Linked DNA regions of Homo sapiens. The protein of the gene in region 1 interacts with the protein of each later gene in a pairwise test. Each region holds a gene or a part of one and is shown in the gene's direction. Other genes may lie near its edges.

The links.
Region 2: the proteins of RBAK (region 1) and SLC25A10 interact in binary tests that used the Homo sapiens proteins (3 or more experiments, as listed by UniProt).
Region 3: the proteins of RBAK (region 1) and CRACR2A interact in binary tests that used the Homo sapiens proteins (3 or more experiments, as listed by UniProt).

Annotation. Positions count from the first base shown.
Region 1 is NC_000007.14:5,062,841-5,069,867, forward strand, and holds the end of RBAK (RB-associated KRAB zinc finger protein), read left to right. Parts: intron 1-854; coding exon 855-2,761; 3' UTR 2,762-6,647; downstream 6,648-7,027. UniProt on the Homo sapiens protein: May repress E2F-dependent transcription. May promote AR-dependent transcription.
Region 2 is NC_000017.11:81,708,457-81,715,300, forward strand, and holds the start of SLC25A10 (mitochondrial dicarboxylate carrier), read left to right. Parts: upstream 1-3,827; 5' UTR 3,828-3,970; coding exon 3,971-4,063; intron 4,064-4,812; exon of another isoform or gene 4,813-5,050; intron 5,051-6,496; coding exon 6,497-6,616; intron 6,617-6,844. UniProt on the Homo sapiens protein: Catalyzes the electroneutral exchange or flux of physiologically important metabolites such as dicarboxylates (malonate, malate, succinate), inorganic sulfur-containing anions, and phosphate, across mitochondrial inner membrane.
Region 3 is NC_000012.12:3,743,093-3,750,119, reverse strand, and holds part of CRACR2A (EF-hand calcium-binding domain-containing protein 4B), read left to right. Parts: intron 1-7,027.

The DNA of each region.
Region 1 (7,027 bases):
AGAAGAGAAATATGGCTCTGTTCCACCCGGCTCACCGGCAGTCAGAGTTTAAGGTTATCTCTCTTGTTCCCTAAACATTGCTGTTTTCCTGTTCTTTTTTCAAGGTGCCCAGATTTCATATTGTTCAAACACACGTGCTCTACAATTTGTGCAGTTAACGCAATTATCACAGGGTCCTGAGGCGACATACATCCTCCTCAGCTGATTAAGAGATTAAAGTAAAGACAGGCATAGGAAATCACAAGGGTATTGATTGGGGAAGTGATAAGTGTCCGTGAAATCTTCACAATTTATGTTCAGAGATTGCAGTAAAGACAGGCATAAGAAATTATGAAAGTATTAATTTGGGGAACTAATAAATGTCCATGAAATCTTAACAATCCATGTTCTTCTGCCATGGCTTCAGCCAGTCCCTCCGTTTGGGGTCCCTGACTTCCCACAACACATTTGATCTAAGTCCTCCCATCTTTGCCTGGATCTGACGTACTTTCAACCACTTCTCTGCTCATCATTTGGTTTTATTTCACCTTTTCTACCAAAGTTTGAAACATAATATTTGTAAAGCAACAAAGTTACCTGTATTCAATATGAATTTACTCTTCTATTTTCTACCACTGTCTCACCTTAATTCTTTCACTGTGTGTGTGTGTGTGTGTGTGTGTGTGTGTGTGTGTTTCTGTTTTGTATTCCAAACCAAAGGAAAAAGAGAACTATGCATTTGTAATTATTTTTATTTATGGAGATTGGCTCTAAAGCCAGAGTCAACCCCACAATGGGGGCTCTTGAATACCAGTACCTTTCCATAGCTAGTGTGTTCAGATTTACAAAGTTTGTTTACTATTTTTCCTTTTTAGAAGCCTGGAGAGTTGATGACCTGATAGAGAGAATCCAAGAAAACGAAGACAAACATTCAAGGCAAGCTGCTTGTATCAATAGCAAAACCCTGACTGAAGAGAAAGAGAATACATTTAGTCAAATTTACATGGAAACAAGCCTTGTTCCTTCAAGCATAATAGCTCATAATTGTGTCTCATGTGGAAAGAATTTAGAATCTATTTCGCAATTAATTAGTAGTGATGGAAGCTATGCTAGGACAAAACCTGATGAGTGTAATGAATGTGGGAAAACATATCATGGAGAGAAAATGTGTGAATTTAATCAAAATGGGGATACCTATTCTCACAATGAAGAAAATATTCTTCAGAAAATTAGTATTTTGGAGAAACCCTTTGAATATAATGAATGCATGGAAGCCTTAGACAATGAGGCTGTTTTTATTGCTCATAAGAGAGCTTACATAGGGGAGAAGCCCTATGAGTGGAATGATTCTGGACCAGACTTCATACAGATGTCAAATTTTAATGCATATCAGAGATCACAAATGGAAATGAAGCCCTTTGAATGCAGTGAATGTGGAAAATCCTTCTGTAAAAAGTCAAAATTCATCATCCACCAGAGGGCTCACACAGGAGAGAAACCTTATGAATGTAATGTATGTGGGAAATCCTTCAGCCAAAAGGGAACCCTCACTGTACATCGGAGATCACACTTAGAGGAGAAGCCCTATAAATGTAATGAATGTGGGAAAACCTTTTGTCAGAAGTTACACCTCACTCAACACCTAAGAACTCATTCAGGAGAGAAACCCTACGAATGTAGCGAATGTGGGAAAACCTTCTGCCAAAAGACACATCTCACCCTGCACCAGAGGAATCATTCAGGAGAGAGGCCCTATCCATGTAACGAATGTGGGAAATCCTTCTCCCGCAAGTCTGCTCTCAGTGACCATCAGAGAACTCACACGGGAGAGAAGCTTTATAAATGTAATGAATGTGGGAAATCCTACTACCGAAAGTCTACTCTGATTACACATCAGAGAACACACACGGGAGAGAAGCCCTATCAGTGTAGCGAGTGTGGGAAATTCTTTTCTCGGGTGTCATACCTCACTATACATTATAGAAGTCATTTAGAAGAGAAACCCTATGAATGTAATGAATGTGGCAAAACCTTCAATTTAAATTCAGCCTTCATTAGACATCGGAAAGTACACACAGAAGAGAAATCCCATGAATGTAGTGAATGTGGAAAGTTCTCTCAGTTGTATCTCACCGACCATCATACAGCTCATTTAGAAGAGAAACCCTATGAATGTAATGAATGTGGGAAAACCTTCCTTGTAAATTCAGCCTTCGATGGGCACCAGCCACTTCCAAAAGGGGAGAAATCCTATGAATGTAATGTATGTGGAAAGTTATTCAATGAGTTGTCATACTATACTGAACATTATAGAAGTCATTCAGAAGAGAAACCTTATGGATGTAGCGAATGTGGGAAAACCTTTTCCCATAATTCATCCCTCTTCAGACATCAAAGAGTACACACAGGCGAGAAACCCTATGAATGTTACGAATGTGGAAAATTCTTCTCTCAGAAATCATATCTCACTATACATCATCGAATTCATTCAGGAGAGAAACCCTATGAATGTAGTAAATGTGGAAAAGTCTTCTCTCGGATGTCAAACCTCACTGTCCACTACAGAAGCCATTCAGGAGAGAAACCCTATGAATGTAATGAATGTGGGAAAGTCTTTTCTCAGAAGTCATACCTCACTGTACACTATAGAACTCATTCAGGAGAGAAACCCTATGAATGTAACGAGTGTGGGAAAAAATTCCACCACAGATCAGCCTTCAATAGCCATCAGAGAATTCATAGAAGAGGAAATATGAACGTACTTGATGTGGAAAATCTCTGAAGTCAGATCTCAATTTTTAGAAAACTCTCTGAATATAATGAATATGGGGAATCCAATAGGAAGTCAAAGCGTTTATCTGAGAGTTCGTGTTCCTGAACGGTGAGAAGCATTTAGGCATTAGAGTCATTTTAATCCAAATTTTCACAGAGAAGAATCCCGAAGAATGTAACAAGAAGCAAAGCCTTCAGCAAGATCATACGACTCATCGGACACTAATTTATATAGGAGTGAAGTTTTATAAATATTTAATATTTATTTTGGATTCAAATTGTATTTACATATCAGGGAATCATACAAAGGCAAAATCTGTCAATATGGTGAATGTGGAAAATATATTGTCTTGGAAATTTGTTGTAAAAGCCATATTTCTAATGGAAAATCAGGTGTTTACAGGAAAGATCTCAGAGGCTATGAGCTCTGAATAAATCTTCATTGTATAAAATGAAGTTTTTAAATTGTCAGGAGTTGATCATGAGGACAGTAGCATTAAATAAGTATATGGCCGTTTTTTATCATGTCTTAAAAATGCAATCTAATGGTAATTCTATGCAAGTTTGGAATTGGATGACTTGTGAAGAGGCAGTTTTCTTATTTGAGTATTAGGATGGCAAAATGTATTAAGACAGGACATATTGTTGGTGAGATAATATTTAATAGGTATAAAATGGTAAAATACCTAGTTTTCTATTTAGAGGAATTTACAAATGGGTTTTTAACAAATGCCTCATTAGTACAGGAGGCAGTCGTTTTGTAAAGTTTTCAACTGCATCTGAGTAAGATAAGATTTTCTAAAAGACTATTTTGATAAACTATACATACATAATTTGGAATTGTTTAAGTCTATTTCAGTGAAAGAGAACAAGCATACTGCCCATACTCTAAAATATCCCCAGCTCTCACACCACCCTTGTTTTTTAACCCATAGGTTTGAGTGTGCCTAGTGCCAATATTTTGTAATTTAGAAATTTTATTCACAAACTTCTGTTTGGTACAAATACAGTGTCATTGTTTTGTGCATTCTCCTTTTTCCCAGTATTTCAGAACAAATTGATTCAAGTTTCTAGCAGATATTTTTTGATCAATTAACTTAATGTCCTCGCTCCATTTCTTGCTGGAACAGTTTAGGTACCTACCACTTCTTCACATGACACAGGGGAATCCTGATTAGTCAAAATAATAATGATTTCATTCTCTTTGCCAGTAACTTGTTTTATAGTGGTCATATGACCTGATACTGGGTAAACAAAACAAAGATGGACTTGTTCTGGGAAAAGGTAAAATGGTAATCAAATAGATTGTGTTCCAGGAATGCAAAGGTGGCTTAATATTCACAAGTCAGTTGCTATTATACACCACCTGTAGAAAAGTAATCTGGCATGCAGAACATTCTTGTGGTACAATTAATGTTCGTTTATGATCTTAGCAAATGATGGATTGAAAGGGACTTACTTAACTGCATAAAGAGACTTAAACTACAACAAACAATATGCTTAATGATGAAATAGTGAACATTTCTCCTAAGATTATAAAAATAAGACAAGGATATCTGCTGTCAATGATTTTATTCGGCATTGTTCAGAAGGACCTAACCAGAAAACTAATGCAAGGAAGAGAAACAAAAGGCATAGAGATTAGAAAAGAAGTAAAACTTTAAAAACGAAAAAGAATATAAATCTCTATTTGCAGATGCCATGAGTAAATTTGGTAAGTTCCCTGCATAAAAGTTATGCAAAAAGCATTTTATGATATACCAGCAAAAAACATGGAAAATGAAATTTTGAAAAGCAATGCCACTTCAAAGATCCCTCAAGTGCCTAGAGGGAGAAAATGAGTTAATATGCTTTGAAGAACTGTATCCAGAAAATAAAATTACAAAGGAGGAGAGGGATAGGATTCCAGGACAATCTCAAAACTATTGCTTTTTCCTAAATTCATTGCAACCTTAAAATCCTAGCAAGTTCTTTAATGTAAATTAACAAGCTAATTCTAGAATTCATATGCATATTCAAAAGTCGAATAATTGTCAAGGCTATCCTGTAGAATGGACAGAGAGGATTGAAATTTCTAAATATCAAGACCTGTTATAAAGCCATAGAAATAATGAAGGTGTTAATTTGGCACAAGGATGAAAAAACTGACTAGTGGAACAGCATACAGATTCAAAAGTAGACCCACGTGTATACCATCACCTGAGTTTTGAGAAAGGTGACATTGAAGTGTAGTGGGGGAAAGGGTGTTCTTTCCAGTAAATGTACTTTGCCAATAAAATTTTGTAATTTGATAAAAAGTTATTTGGAGGTGGATTGCAGATCTGAATATGAAATGTGAAAGCTTTACAAAGAAATCTTAGGACAGTTTGTAATCTTGGAGTAAGCAAAGGTTTATTGAGACCCAAAAAGCATTAACCCATAAAATTAGAACTTAATATTAAATTTGAGAACTTCTATTTATCAGAAAGACCACCAGTAAGAAAATGAACAGGAAATCATGGGGAGGAGAAGATATTTGCAGTTCATGTATGTGACAACAGCACCGAGTATAGCAGAAGTGTTGGCAAACTTTATAAAGCAAGGCACCAGATGGTGAAAATTTTCAGCTTTGTCACAACTGCTCATCTTTGCTATTGTGTGAAAGCATCCATACACCATGCATTAAAAAAAAAATGAGCATGGCTGCTTCCCAGTAAAACCATTCACAATCCCAGGTGGCAGTCTGGATTTGGTCTGCACTCATAGTTTTCTGGTCCCTGATCTCGAATATGTAAAGAGCACCTACAAATCAACAAGGGGGAAACTGGAAAAGGCAAAAGACTTTAGAGGATATCCACTCACTTTAGAGGATATCCAGACGGCCAATAAGCATGAAAAGATGTGTTAGCTTTATTAGTAATCAGGGAAATGCAAACTTAAAACATGTAGCACTGCTACCCATCCATGGAAATGGTTAAAATGAAAAGCATGAAAAAGCATCACGTTTTGGCAAGGATGTAAGCAAGAGGAACTGTACACTACTGGTGGAATTGCTCATCGATAAAACCATTTTGAAAGCTGGCACTAAAAGCCAAGCATATGTATACTGTTTTACCCAAACCCAGCAAAAATGCATGTGTCTGTCCACCAAAGGACATGCACTAGAATATTTATAGCCTAAAACTGCACAAAACAGAACTATCTTAAGGCACATGTGCAATGGAATGAATAAAGAAGTGGCATATGTCCATGGAATACTGTAAAACAGTGAGCATGAATGAACTAGAAGTCCGTGTAATAACGCAGCTGAATTTAACAAACCTTGCTGAATGAAAGACTCCAGACACAAAAGCCAACATGCTGTATGATTCCTTCTATATAAATTATAAAGACGGGCAAAACTTGTATACGTGGTTTAAAATTAGGGTAGCAGTTAGCCTTGGCCAAGGCTGAAAGGGGGCATTTATCTGGTGCTGGGAATAATCTGTTTCTAAACCTAGGTGCTAAGTATTTGAGTGTGTTTTGAGCTGTGCACTTAAGATATGTGTATTTTTCTGCATGTGTGTTAAACTTTCCATAAAAGTTTTCTAAAATCACAAATGGCTAACATTTGTGTCGCTCATCACTCTAATCATATTTTTCTAGATGTGTATGAATATGCTGCACAACAGGAATTAAATGGCAGATTTTGCATAATTCTGTGCAGGAAATACATATTTATAGTAATTTTGATGGCAACTACTAAGATTTCCTACGCTGTCCTTAAAGCTTAGCATAATGTATATTTTAAGTGAAATATTTGAGAAGGTTAAAGAATCATTACATACTTTGTCATCCTATACTTTTGCATATATAAATAGGTCTGAGCTGCCTCTTCAATAAAGAAGCTAATGTGTAACATTTCATATTTCCCTAAACAAATTGTTTTTTGCATTTCTGAATTCGGGATTCATCTTAACTTTTACTGTAGGGGTGACCTTTCTTGGCAGTGAATGAATATAATGCTGAGTTGGATTTGATGGAAAATTATTTTAAAAGTATTCAGCTAAATATTTGAGCAAATCTCAGATACACAGTTAACAGCCCAGATGTAAGTGAGTGAAAGAAACAGGTCAGCAAAACTTTGCACCATTGAAAAAAAAAAAACACTTTGGGTGAGGGCTGGCTGAGCTTGTAAAAGCACAGCAAGAAGGACGTGACATTGGATGGCATAGACTGTGTGCCTCTTTTTTTTTTTTTTTTTTTTTTTTGGTGGGAAGGCATTTGTTTTTTGTTTTTCTTTCTCTTATTTTTAGAG
Region 2 (6,844 bases), on another chromosome or scaffold:
GGAAGGATCCCTTGGATGGGACCAGAAAGGGGCACCGTGTGTCTGGAAGCTGCCCACTGGCTGGGACTCCTGGGGGAGCGGGAGGGGCAGGGAGTTTCAGGCTCACTGTGCGTGTACACCCTGCCTGGCCCAGGTCCTCTTCCAAGGCCTTCTGGTAGAGTTTCTCTGACTAACCTGCTGTCCCCAGGAAAGGCTGTCCCAAGCCAAGCCTGGAAGTCCCCATTGGCCATGGTATCCATTTTGAGGGGTTAATGGTCTTCCCTCAGGAGGTGACACTGCCACCTGGAGCTGGGTGCATTCTGCCTGGTGCCCTGCTGACCCCAACTGCCTTTCCCCTCTGGAAGGCAGCGAACATCTGAGCTCAGGGACGAGCCCTGCTTGAGGTCAGACAGACATGCTGTCTTCATCCAGGCTGCACCCAGGCCAGATAGACCAGCAAAATCTCTGCCCGCGACTCCTCGCTGTCTACCCTGGCTCAGGCGTCTGCCAGGCCACTCGCAGGAGCCACCGAGAGGCCCTTTCCTCCCTGCCGGGGGACCCCCAAAATAACCTGTGGATGCCAAGCAGCAGGACACTGCGGTGGATGCCAGGCCGCAGTCGGAGGCTGGACGGGGAGCCCTGTCCCGTGAGCTTGCTCAGTCTGCCCCAACCACCCCCTTGGGCCTACCGACATAACTTATGATCCGTTTGAGAATCCATCAGGGATCCTTGTGAGTCCCCGACCTGCAGTTCTAGATTCATCATTTGAAAAAGCCTCTGGCCCTGGATGCATTTCCTGTTTTCAGGATTCCTCGCCTTCTGACTGCTCTCCCAGCATCTCTAGCTCACGGAGTTCACAAACTTCAGTCCCCTACAGCTCCTTGCACTTTTGTTCTATTTTTTTTAATGTTTTATTTACTTATTTATGTATTTATTTTTATGAAACGGTGTCAGTTTGTCACCTGGGCTGGTGGTGCAGTCTTGGCTCACTGCAGCCTCCACCTGCCGGGTTCAAGCAATTGTCCTGCCTCACCTTCCCAAGAAGCTGGAATTACAGGCATGCACCACCACGCCCAGCTAATTTTGTATTTTTATTAGTAGAGATAGGGTTTCACCCTGTTGGCCAGGCTGGTCTTGAACCTTATTTTTATCTTTTTTAATTTTAATTTTTTTTGAGTGAGTTTTGCTCTTGTCACCCAGGCTGGAGTGCAATGGCACGATCTTGGCTCACTGCAACCTCCACCTCCCAGGTTCAAGCGATTCTCCTGCCTTAGCCTCCCTAGTAGCTGGGATTACAGGCGCCCGCCACAACACCCAGCTAATTTTTGTATTTTTAGTAGAGGCAGCGTTTCACCACGTTGGCCAGGATGGTCTCGAATTCCTAACCCCAGGTGATCACCCACCTCGGCCTCCCAAAGTGCTGGGATTACAGGTGTGAGCCACCACACCTGGCCTATTTTTATTTTTTAATATAGACACGATCTCACTCTGTCACCCGAGCTGGAGTGCAGTGGCCTGATCAAGGCTCACTGCAGCCTCAGCCTCCTGTGCACAAGCAATCGTCCTACCTCATCCTCCCAGGTAGCTGGGACTATAGGCACGTGCCATCATGCCTGGCTAATCTTTTGATTTTTTTTAGAGATGTGGTCTCACTGTGTTGCGCAGGCTGGTCTGAAACGCCTGGCCTCAAGAGATCCTCCTACCTTGGCCTCCCAAAGTGCTGGGATTACAGGTGAGAGCTGCCCTGCCCAGCCTTTTTTGTTCTTTGTAAAGCTCTTCAGTTCCTGCTCCTTACCCGCTGGGCCCTGCTCTTTCTGCTTTGGAGCAGTTCTTCCTTCAGCAGGGAGCCAGTGTTCTGTGGGTTGGGGGGTCTCTGCCAGCAGCCAGTTTCAGCCCTGTCTTGCAGGTGGCCTTCGGAGGGACAGGTTGCAGCCCAGGCCCGCCCCCCTCCTTCCTGGAGTGTCTCACAGACTCAGGGGACACTGGCCCTCCAGGCCCTGCTTCCCCCAAGGTTTCCATCCATCGCCTCTTGATTCTTGGTAATCGGGAGCCGATGGATGCAACTCATCTCGGTTTACACTGAGTGAGACAGGCGCTGTGGGCACAGCCAAGTCTGCGGGACTCAGTCAGGTGTGAGCCTGGATGGCCCCGGACAAGGAAGCCTGTCCTCTTGCTGGGAAATTTCCGTTAAGATCGGGCCACTTCCCCTGCTTCCTAACGGTTGAGTCTGTTTGCTCTGGGCCTTTTAAGCCCAGCGTGATCCCTCTGAGTCCCTGCGGTGCATTTGCGCCATCTCCACGCTTCCTGTTGAGCCCCAGCCCAGGCTTGGTGCGGGCAGTGCTGCACTGCACTCTCCTGGTTGCCTCCTGAGCACCTCCACCCGCTTCCCCACCAGGCGTGGCTGTGTTTTCACCCCCAGTGTCCATCTGGCACCCTTCTCGATTGCCAGGTAGTTACGGTCTGTGTGGGCAACACCTGAGGGACCCAACCAAACCAAGGTCCAGGACACACTTCCGGGCAGGGGTACCGCCTCTGGTTAGCTGCTCACTCCCCAGCCCAAATCTTCCGCTGATGACTTCTGGGGTCAGAGGCCACCTAAGGGTCTAGAAAACAGTCTCCTCCAGTTGGCTACCTGCCTACGTTGGGGTTACGGCCCAATAAACCCACAGCCAAGCTGAAAATCCTAAGTGTGCGTCTTGCGCTTCCGACACAGCCAGGGCATCGCTGGATGCGCAGAGGCAGGGCTGGACACATTCTGGTGCTTGAGGGGTTCCAGGGACCACGAGTTGTTTTTCCGGTGCTCCTCACCCTTCGCCCTGGAGGGTGGGGGAGGCCGGACAGCAGTGACCAAGCTGGAGCTGCAGGTCTTCATCCCTGTGGCCCAGCCCTAAAGCAGCCTTGGGGACTTAAATTTCATTTTGCCCAGCAGGTGCACCTGGGCCAGGAACACACCAGCGCCTCCTTGTTCTTCGCAGGGAAGTGGAATCCAAGCAGGGGCCCAGATGCAGGCAGGCATCTCCTGGGAACAAGAGCCCCAGAATCCACCCCGGGGCCCCACTTCCAGGGTGGTTGCCTGGGGCGTCTGGTCAGAGCCAGACCAGAACTGAGCAGGAGCTTCCGGGCATCTGTGTGTGGGAAGGGAGAGGCAAGTCCTTCCTAACCGCCTTTTTTCCCAGTTTTCATTCAGTCTGGCCCCAAGCAGGTTCTTTTTTTCTTTTCTTTTTCTTTTTTTTTTTTTTTTTTTTGAGATGGAGTCTCGCTCTGTCGCCCAGGCTGGAGTGCAGTGGCGCGATCTCAGCTCACTGCAACCTCTGCCTCCCGGATTCAAGCGATTCTACTGCCTCAGCTTCCTGAGTAACTGGGATTACAGGCGTGAGCCACCGCGCCCGGCTCCCGAAGCCGGTTTTCTGTTCTCTTGCAGCTGGGCCGGGGCTGAGCCCTCGGTGGGGGCAGGGGTTGCAGACCTGTGGACGCAGGGCCCACGCCGCACACACGTGGCCCCCGCCAGGTGACTCACGAGCCAGCGCCTGCGCGGCGGGGTGGCCACCGGGTGCAGGTTCAGGGCCAGGGGCCGGGCCTCCTGGGGATTGGCAGGGCGCCCGCCGCGGTCCCATGTGCCTGGGGCCGGTCCCCGGGCGGTGGCCTTCGGCCCTGCGCTCCGGCCTGGAGAAGGGAGGACGCCAGGGGCCCGGGGGAGTGGAGGCGGCCACGCAGCAGCCCCGGAGCACCCGCGCGTCCGCAGGCCGGGCCCACCGCGCTCGGCGCCCCTCGCGGCCGCTTTAAGGCGCCGGGCCCGCCTCAATCGCAGGGGGCGTGGCCTAGCGGTCCCGCCCCCGGGGCGCGCGCGCGCATTGGCTGTGCGGGGTGCGGGCGCGCGGGCGGCGCTTTGAACCGGGCGCGGGGCGCGGGGCGCGGGGCGCTGCGGCCGGTACACGCCGGGGTAGGGCCGGGGTCGGGTTGTGGTCGGGCCGGGATTGGGCTCTCCTGGGCCATGGCAGCCGAGGCGCGCGTGTCGCGCTGGTACTTCGGGGGGCTGGCCTCCTGCGGGGCCGCCTGCTGCACGCACCCGCTGGACCTGCTCAAGGTGAGGCCGGGGCCCGGGACGCGGGGCGGATGGGACCCTGGCGCCGCCGAGACGCCTGCAAAGGCAGCAGCCCGGCCCCACGCACCCGGGGATCGCCGCGCCCGGGGCTCCCTCCTGGAGAGCGCGAGGAGGCCCCCGACGCCCGGATGGCCGATCCCGGGTGGCCCTCCAGTGGTGGCCGCCGAGCTCGAGGCCTGCAGGGCGCAGCCGCGCTCCCCAGCTTCCCAGCCGGCTTCCCAGTTCTCGGCAGGTGGCGATCCAGCCCCAGCTCTACACTTTAATACCTGGTGACCTTGGGGGAGTCACTTGGCCTCTCTGAGCCACCCACCCCCATACATTCAAGAACGCTCCTTCCGCCTAGTTAGAAGTTGTGGGGGGAGTTCTGTGAGGTGCACAGGTGTTGGCATCTAGAGACGTGCTGGCTGTAGCATACCCAGGGTGTGGGCCAAGCCGCCCCCCACCCAGGGGTGTTTAGCACACCGCCGGACGTGTCCCTGGGCAAGTGGGGTGACCCGATGCCCCGGCTTTGGGCTGCTTCCTTCGGAGAGCTGCGTGGGCACTGGAAGCGATGTTAGGACCAGCACACCCCCAGGAGAGATGCCAGGAGACCCTGCACGCGTGTGGTCCTGGCCCTATGAAAGCGGGCGTTTCTCAGCACGAGAAGCAGCCACCGTTTTTTTACTTTTTTTTTTTTTTTAATGCTTATGGGGCAAAATAAGACAGAGCTCTCCTTGTTTCCCAGGGACAGCCAAGGGGCGTTGTTTTCTGACCGTGTCTTGCCACAGAGAACAAAGAAGAAAGGGCCTGAGGCTTTGCACAGTCTGCCCAGCAGGCCCTGCCCTGTGAACCTGGCTGTGGTCACTGGGCAGCCGCCTGTCTAGGGGACCTTTATTTTAGCAGCCTGTCCAGGGGACTTGTATTCCAGCAGCCTTTGAGGGGACTGGCTTTACTAATGAGCAACAATGCTGGTCGCTGCGTGAAGGCCAGGTGAGCAGATGTGGGCGTCTTGGGGCACCTGAGACCTCACTGGTCCTGGGAGAGGCCTTCAGAGCTCCCAGGCCACAGGCAGCCACGGCCAGTGAGATGCAGCCACAGCGACAGGAAGGCGCTGGCATGGGCAGAAGAAGCGAGCCCCTCCTTGGCATCGGGCTCTTCCTTTCCTCCTGGGCGCCGCACAGGTGCCCCTCCCCCAGGGCCTCTCCCACGTTCATCTGGGTGTTGAAGGCGGGACCTGCGTGCTGCTGTCCCTTGTCCGGGGTCTGAGCCCCACTGCCCCTTGGCCCTCCCCAACCAGGCGCTCTCTGGCTGCAGAACACCGCCTGGGGGAGGCGGGACTGCCCTCTGGCCTGGGAGGGCGGGAGGAGCCAGCTGCTGGCAGCATATGGCGCTGTGGTCAGGGTGTGCTCCTGAGGACTGCTCACCAGGCCTCTCTGCCTGGCCGTCGGAAAGATCTTTTAAAGCTTCTTGAGCACTTTGTCCCATGTCCCTACAGTCCCTACCGTCGCATCTGGCCGGGACGGGGGCTGCTACCTGTGTGGCCCAGTCCCTCTGTTCTGCTGGGCTCGCACAATGGGAGGCCCCTCTCTGTCCCCACCCATCTTTGCCGACCCCTGGGCGTGCGTTACGGGGCCGCGCACGTGCAGGTCACACTGAGCGGCGGAAGGACTTCTTTGGGGTCAGTGCTGGGGGTGGGACCCAGGAGCTGGGATCCTGGGCCAGGTGCTGGCCTTCCTGTCTGGCCCTGGCCAATCCCCCTACTGCCGGGAGCTCTCAGCTGGCCAGGCGAGGAGGCAGAGGTCCTGTGAGTGGTGGAGGCCAACAGAATGGGAGGTTGTCGGGCTGACAGCCCCCGAGTGCCTGCCCACAGCTCCTAGGTGCTTTGCAGAGGAGGCCGCTATGCCCTGCCGCCAGCCACACCGTCCCCTTGTCTGCTGCTGAGCTCCTGCTGCCTTTCAAGGCCTTCTATGGCTACCTCCTCAGTCTCCCATGGTCCTGCAGGCTCCCTCGCCGTTTCTGAGCGGCCATAAACGTTTGTCCCTCTTGAGACGTGGTGTGGTGGATAAAAAGTAGGGCTCTGGGGTCTCCTCGCTGGGCCCAAATCCTGATGGCACCAGCGGGTGCGTTACCTCTCCATGCCTCAGTTTCCTCATCTGCAGAAGGAGAATGGCGAGCCCCTGCGGCCAGTGCAGCCAATACTCAGGTGGTACGCGGGGCGCTCGCGGGGCTCGCGGACACTCTCAGCTCCATGTCCACTGGTGTGGTTGCTGTTGGAAAGCAGTGGTGTGAGCTGGTTCCAGGCACGGGTGTGGAGTCCCCGGGCAGGGCCGTGGGAGGCCTTATCACTGCCTCCTGCCTCAGTTTCCCCCTCTCTGGATGAACCTGGCACCGATCCCTCGGGGTCGCTGTGGGGTCTGAGAGCACTCACTCCCGCAGGTGCATCTGCAGACGCAGCAGGAGGTGAAGCTGCGCATGACGGGCATGGCGCTGCGGGTGGTGCGTACCGACGGCATCCTGGCACTCTACAGCGGCCTGAGCGCCTCGCTGTGCAGACAGGTGCGTGGTGTGTGCCAGCCTTGGGCTCCCAGACTGGGGCTGAGTCCTGCAGTGGCATCCAAGCTACTTCCGTCCCCTTTTCAAGACTTTGTGCAAGGAAGGACCCACCAGGCCGAGAGCTGGTGACCCCAGGGTGCGCCTCCCATGGGCACCCACCCAGTTTGCAGGGCTGGGCCTGAGACCGCCACTTACTGGTGGGGAAGCTGAGGCCCAGGGAGTGAGAAAGCA
Region 3 (7,027 bases), on another chromosome or scaffold:
TACTAAAAATACAGAAATTAGCTGGGCTTGGTGGCAGGCACCTGTAATCCCAGCTATTCAGGAGGCCAAGCAGGAGAATTGGTTGAACCCGGGAGGCGGTGTTTGCAGTGAGCTGAGATTGCGCCATTGCACTCCAGCCTGAGTGACAAGAGCGATACTCCGTCTCAAAAAATAAAAATAAAAAATAAAAAAAATAGCCCTGGGGACAGTTCTATAGACAGGTCTAGCATTCAATGGACCATTTCAAACTGGTACACTTTTTGTTCCTACCAACACAACACACACACACACACACACACACACACACACACACACACACACACAAAGAAACAGCAACAACAACAACAACAAAAACCAGCACATTGTTCCACTCATCCATCTATTGGTCATTTCTTTGCCTTTTCAAATCGCTTCCTTTCCTCTGAGAGAAATTTGATAAGGCACAGTTTAGTTAGAGCCATAAAGGGTTCCGTCCAAGTACAGGGTCAGGGGGAAGTCCCAATAAAGCCAGACGGTACCTGTGTGCACCAGCAGAATCCTAAGGCACGGACAGGGAAGCAGGAAAGGAGAGGATGGCTGTAAGGATCAAGGAAGGAGAAGAGACAAAGTGCAGAGAAGAAGGAAAAGAGGAAGAGCTGAGTTTGTGGAGCAGACAGCTCAGTGGCATGGGCAGAACCTACTTTGGGGACCTATATTTTGGGAACCTGGCTCCCCAGTACTCAGAGGCAGCATGAAGCAGGGAGATAACCAGGTGGACATGAAGAAGCCAAAGGGAGTCACTCTTATAATACATCATCCAACCTCGGGCACTGCCGGGAGTGAAAGGGGGAATATTCATAGCAATGCTGGGACCACAAGCATAGCCAGGATGTTCCAGGCAAACTGGTCACCTTCACAAGAGCAATGCAAAGAAAGTGCCAGGCATGGCCCAAGGGCTGTCCATGTATTCCCTTATGGAAGCCTCACTACAACCCAATTGGCTAGGCACTGCCATCATGCCCATTTTATAGAAAAGTTAACTGAGGAAGAGAGAGGCACAGTATCATGTCTATGGTCACACAGCCGATACACGGTAGAGGCAGGATTTGAACTCAGGCAGCTTGGCTATTTCAGAGCCTGCACTGTAAGCGTTATGCTCCATTGGCTCTCTACTCACCAACAGCATCCACACAAAGACACCCCCTTCCCCTCACAGGACTCAGGAGAGGGACCTTTGGGGTCTGTTTTCCCTCACAGCTGCTCCAACTGGTCAAGTTAGCATGACGTCATCCGGATGACATAAACAAATTTGCAGTCAGGCTGAGGTGAGGGGGAGGACAACCCTCAGTCAGGTTTGTCCTCTACAGGCTCCACACCTTGTACACAGTGCTGAGTCTTGGCCTCAGGTGTTGGAGTTCTCAGTCATCCTTGCCTTGTAACTGCTCTGCCCTTTCTCTGAAGGCTGAGTTAGATACAGGAAGGACCTCTTGAAGTTCAATATTAGGGACGGGTTCCTCTAGGACCTCATCTGCCTGGGGCAACTAGAGGGTGCCACCCTGTGATGACAAAGTTATCTCCAGGGCCTCTTCCAGCTTGAGGGCTATAGAATTTTCTTTTGTGACAGATTCTTCAGGAGACAGAGCATCCCCCTTGTCGGTGTGTTTTGGCTCCCAGCCCTGGCTTTCTCGGAATGCCAGCGGGACACTTTCTTCCCTTGTCTGTTTGTTGACACATCCTGGATGGGGCTGGCCAAGGGAGGCATTTATGGGGCAGCAGGCTCTATGGTGGGTGGAGTCTGACTCTGGGTGATGCTCCAGGTGTTTCTAGAAGATGCATGGAGGTAGGAGCAGGCAAGCTTCCCCTGTGGTTCAGATTCCAAGGGCCTCTGTCCCCACCCCATCTGTGCTGAAGATCCCTTATTCACACAATAGAGCTGCCCTGCCTGGGGGTGGAAAAATGTGAGGCTGGGCCTGAGAACTTGTGGGAAAGTGGAAACCGTGTTTTACCCAAGCAAGTCCCAGCAGTGAGGTTGGATAGGCTTAACACCCAGTCCTGTGCTCGTAGTGTACCCCTGAGCCTGTGGAACTCTGTGCCCTTCTGGGTGCACCCCTGAGCCTGTGGAACTCTGTGCCCTTCTGGGTGTACCCCTGAGCCTGTGGAACTCTGTGCCCTTCTGGGTGCACCCCTGAGCCTGTGGAGCTCTGTGCCCTTCTGGGTGTACCCCTGAGCCTGTGGAACTCTGTGCCCTTCTGGGTGCACCCCTGAGCCTGTGGAGCTCTGTGCCCTTCTGGGCTTAGTTAGAGGAAAGGTGAGAAGGGTGAGACGTAGCACACGTGCTACAGGTGCACCAGGACAAGCTGGAACCAGCGGGTGTGGCTGCCCTCCTCCCGGAACCTGCACTCGTGTTTCTGGCCAGACAGCTTCCTTTACTCTCTTTTAAACTCACAGCAGCACCAGGGGACGTGGGAGGTTGGCTACCATGACCCAATTACCAGTGCAGACAAGAGGAAAATCTTCTATTACCTGGGTGATTGGTTTATTTTCACTTTGTTTACTTTAGAGATTGCTCAGCATTGAGGTCCAGGATTTGTAGTCCATCAGAGTTCTCTTGGTAAATGGATGCAGCTTTGCCACATTGTCCGCTGCACATAACCACATACCTTCACCCACTGGGATAGAGGGTTGGATTGGTGCTGATGCGGGAGGGAGGCCAGCTTCCTGCAGCCCCACCTTGACCAAAGACGGAACTCCAGGGACTCTCTTTCCACTGCACCTCAAGGTTGATGCACAGAAACACACTGGGCATGGCTGAGAGTTTGGCATAAATGAACTCATCTTTGTAACCGTTTTATGAAATAGGCACTGTTATGATCATCCTCCCCATTTTACAGATGAGGAAGCCATCTTCCTCATCTGTTTCAAGAGGCTGAGTAACTTTTCCAGGGTCACACAGCTGATAAGAGGCCGAGCTGGGATTTGAACCCAGGCAGTCTGGCTCTAGGGCCAAGTCCTCAAGCGTTCCACAGCCTGCCGCCTCTGAATGCTTAGTGCAGAGTCTGGGTTCTACTCTAACCAGTCATATGTCTTTGGGATTAGCCTCTAAACCTGAGTTTCTCTTCTCTTCATTCAAGTGAGAATACAGGAGTTACCTGTTGATCCATGTCAGGTGAGTTAAGGGATGTGAGGAAGCACGTGGTCCACGCACATGTGATCCCATGGGTCATGGTGACATTACCTGTTTTGAGAGCTTGTGGTTGAGTTCCATGCTAAGGGTGTACTCCTCCCCTTGTTGGTCCTTCTCAACCAACTTGTTGAGATGTACTCCTCCCCTTGTTGGTCCTTCACAACTTGTTGTGCTTGTCTTGGATTGAAATTCTCCAGGAGGCAGAAGCAGAGTCTCTCACCTAATTAGCTTCCATGCATGCTAAGTCCCTGCTGTGCCAGCAAAGGGTCCTGCAGGGGGTCTGGTCTAAGAAGAGAGGGGTGGTCCCTGTAGTAGGCATGCATACTCCCTTTGAGGGGATGTCTTTGTTCTGGCAGACAGAACAAAATATCACAGACAACCGAAATTTATTTTCTCACAGTTCTGGAGGCTGGAAGTCTAACATCATGGTGCCAGTTTGGTGGGTGAAGGTTCTCTCCTTGGCTTGCAGAAAGCCACTTTCTTTTTGTGTCCTCACATGGCACAGAGAGGGAGAGAATGGGAGAGGAAGAAGGGAGAGGGAGGGTGGAGGAAGGGTGGGGAAGAGGGAGGAGAGAGAGATGGGGAGAGAGAGAGAGAGAGAGAGCTCTCTGGTGTCTCTTCATGATGGGCACTAATCCCATCATGAGGGCCCCACCCTCATGACCTCATCTAAACCTAATCACCTCCTAAAGTCCTCACCTCCAAATACCATCACATTGAGAGTTAGGGCTTCAACATATGAATTGTCGGGGGGACATAATTTAGCTCATAGCAGGAGATGATATGAAAAATAACCAATGATGTTAGTGTTTATAGGCAAGTAAGTAAAGTATATTTCTCATGGCTTTAGAGAGGAGGTAGGATTTGAGCTGCACCTAGAAGTACAGCCCAGGCTGGGAAGCATTTACAGCACAGGGCCCTGAGGCACAGGAACAGCCCTTCACCCCCTCGACAGGGCCATGCCCTTCTGAAGACATGAATGGGGTCAGGGAGGTCAGCGGGAGGGAGATGAGAGACACTGGCCAGAGAGACACCTCCTGCCTTCAGCCAGGTTTTGTTTTTCTGTAGGGAAGGAGATGGTTTGTCAAAGATACTATTTCTTTTTTCTTTTCTCTTCTCTTTTCTTTCTTTATTTTATTTTATTTTATTTTATTTTATTTTATTTTATTTTATTTTTTGAGACGAAGTTTTGTTCTTGTTGCCCAGGCTGGAGCGCAATGGCATGATCTTGGCTCACTGCAACCTACCTACACCTCCTGGGTTCAAGCGATTCTCCTGCCTCAGCCTCCCAAGTAGCTGGGATTACAGGCATGCACCACCATGCCTGGCTAATTTTTGTATTTTTAGTAGAGACGGGGTTTCTCCATCTTGGCCAGGATGGTCTCAAACTCCAGACCTCAAATGATCTGCCTGCCTTGGCCTCCCAAAGTGCTGAGATTACAGGTGTGAGCCACTGCACCTGGCCTAAAGCTACTATTTCTTAACCTGAGCAGGGCTGAAATTTTAGGGGCTTTCTTCCCAAGGCAGGTTTTGTGAGCAAGACAGCAGCAGCGCCACCATCCCCAGAGGAGGACACGGTGGGATTGAGGGAGGAGGAGTTCTTGGAAGTTCATTTCTGTGGGTAGTGTCATCTGAATCACGGTCAGAAATTGCCATTGGGGAGATACCATCAGGGATAACACATTGTTCAGCAGAAGAACCTCTAGATCTTTCAGTGGTGCCATGGCCTGCGGTAGCTTTTTGGTTTTCGGGTCTTCTGGGAGTTTGGATTGAACAGACACCCCGGATACAGATCATCCACAGGATGGAGATCTTGACTCACAGGGCCTTTGGTGTGGCATCTGGGTGCATGGACACAGCCTTCCCTACAGAATCCCACAGAGGGAAGGCCATCCAACTCTTCTTTATGTTATTTTTATTGGACTGTCTTCAGTGGGCAGAGAGTTGAGGTTTAGGGTTTTTTGTTTGTTTGTTTTTGGATCTTCACTGTTTCATTGTGATAAAATATACATAACATAAAATGTATCATTTTAACCATTTTAAGTATACTGCGCAGTGGCAGTAAGTATATTCACATTGTGAATTGTTTCCTCTTCTCAAACTGATGGGGTTGGAGAAGGTTTGGTTTTAACTGTGGCTCCAGGAAGTCATACAGTGATACCGTCTCAGTTCGCTCTCTGCACAATGGCCTCACCATCAGATGTCCTGTCGACTTGGGTAATCTTTCTGCTGCCATTTCTCTCTTATTCCTTTCTGTTTGTTTGGGTTTAAAAAAAAAATTATCTGCTTCAATCAAAAGCACTTCTGTGAGACTGCCCTCCTGTGGGCTAAGTACTTTGTACAGAACCTTGCATATTTCTCCCCAGGGTCCTGTAAGGTAGTATGATCACCCACCCTTTCCAGATGAGGAAAGTGAGCACCACAGATGTAAGTAACATACCCGAGGCAGTGTAATTTCAGAGCTGGGACTTGATTCTGGACTCTCTGATTCTTCCTGCTTCATCTAGACAGGGGTGTCATTGTACAGAGTCAAGCACAGCTTCCCTGTCTGGGCACATTAGTGTCTACTCGAGAAGGTTTCTAGCATCTGCACGGATCTGGGTTTGTATTATGTGAACCATGTTCCATTAGGATTCTTCACTGGGGCCTTTAGCCAAAAAGGATTCACTTAAAAATAGCTTCATTACATACCACAGATAAACTGCTAATGGAATTTACCAAACTGTTAAATTAAGCTTTTCAACTAATTACACACATACTATGAAAGTGTGAGTTTAGCTTTGACCGTGGATTCCTCCCAAGGCAGAGAATTGGTGCACGTTCTCTGGCTAGCAGGGGTTTGGTCACCATCTCAGCTCCTGTTCTTGGTCATGATCTGTTTTGCTTTCCTGTCCCCTCTTGGTATCTCACCACAGCTTGATTCTGCATTTACTCAGGACACAGTTTGTTCCTAGGCTGTGGTTGTCCTGGCCACAGATACTACAGAGTGTATTTGCTATTTCCCCAGCGAGCATTCTTTCTGGCATCTGACACATCTTCTGCGACGTGTCCTCTGGCACATTTCCTATTGCTCGTCATTACCCTCCCCATGGACTGCAAGCCCCTACTGTGTGTCTCAGAACTCAGATTTTTGGGTTGAACTTTCTTTAGGGCACAGGGTTCTGATGTGGCTTAACTCTGGGAATGAAGTCAGCTGGGGAAACAGCAAAGCATTCAACAAACTTCTGGGTGGGCTGCATGCTTCATAATAAGATAATTTGTCAAATGCCTGCCATGTGCCAGGCATTTTCTGATATAGGTCTTACCATGTCCTTTTTACAGTTGAGGAAACTGAGGCTCAGACAGGTTCAACAACTTGTGTGGGTTCACACCAGACACCTAGTCCCGGTATAGACACCTGCACCGTGGACACCTCCCCCAGGCTGTTGATCCCCCTGTGCCTGACTGGCTTCCTACAAAGGGCCGACCCCTTGGGTTGCAGGGTCTGCTTCATAACAGAGCTCTCTCCACACGCCTGTAAAATGGGAGGCAGAAGCCGCCGACGCCGTATCAGGTGAGCTGCCCCAGGCACAGGCCATCCAGAGATATAGGGATGGAAAAGGCCAGTTTAAAAGTCTGATATAGTACTTCGTTTTAAGGAATGCAGTTTTAGTACATTGAACTGCAGCTTGAAGTGGAACCAGAGACACAAAAAGGAACTGCCAGGTAAAATGAGTGTCAATGAAAAAAGAAAAGTTACTCAGCTTCCATTACGTAGTCACACATCGCAAACTAAACGTATTTTTAAAAAATGTACAAGCCCTATTTACAGAAGTTTGAAATAGAATGAAAAGTTCTAATTTGTACTCAATAGCAGTTAGATTG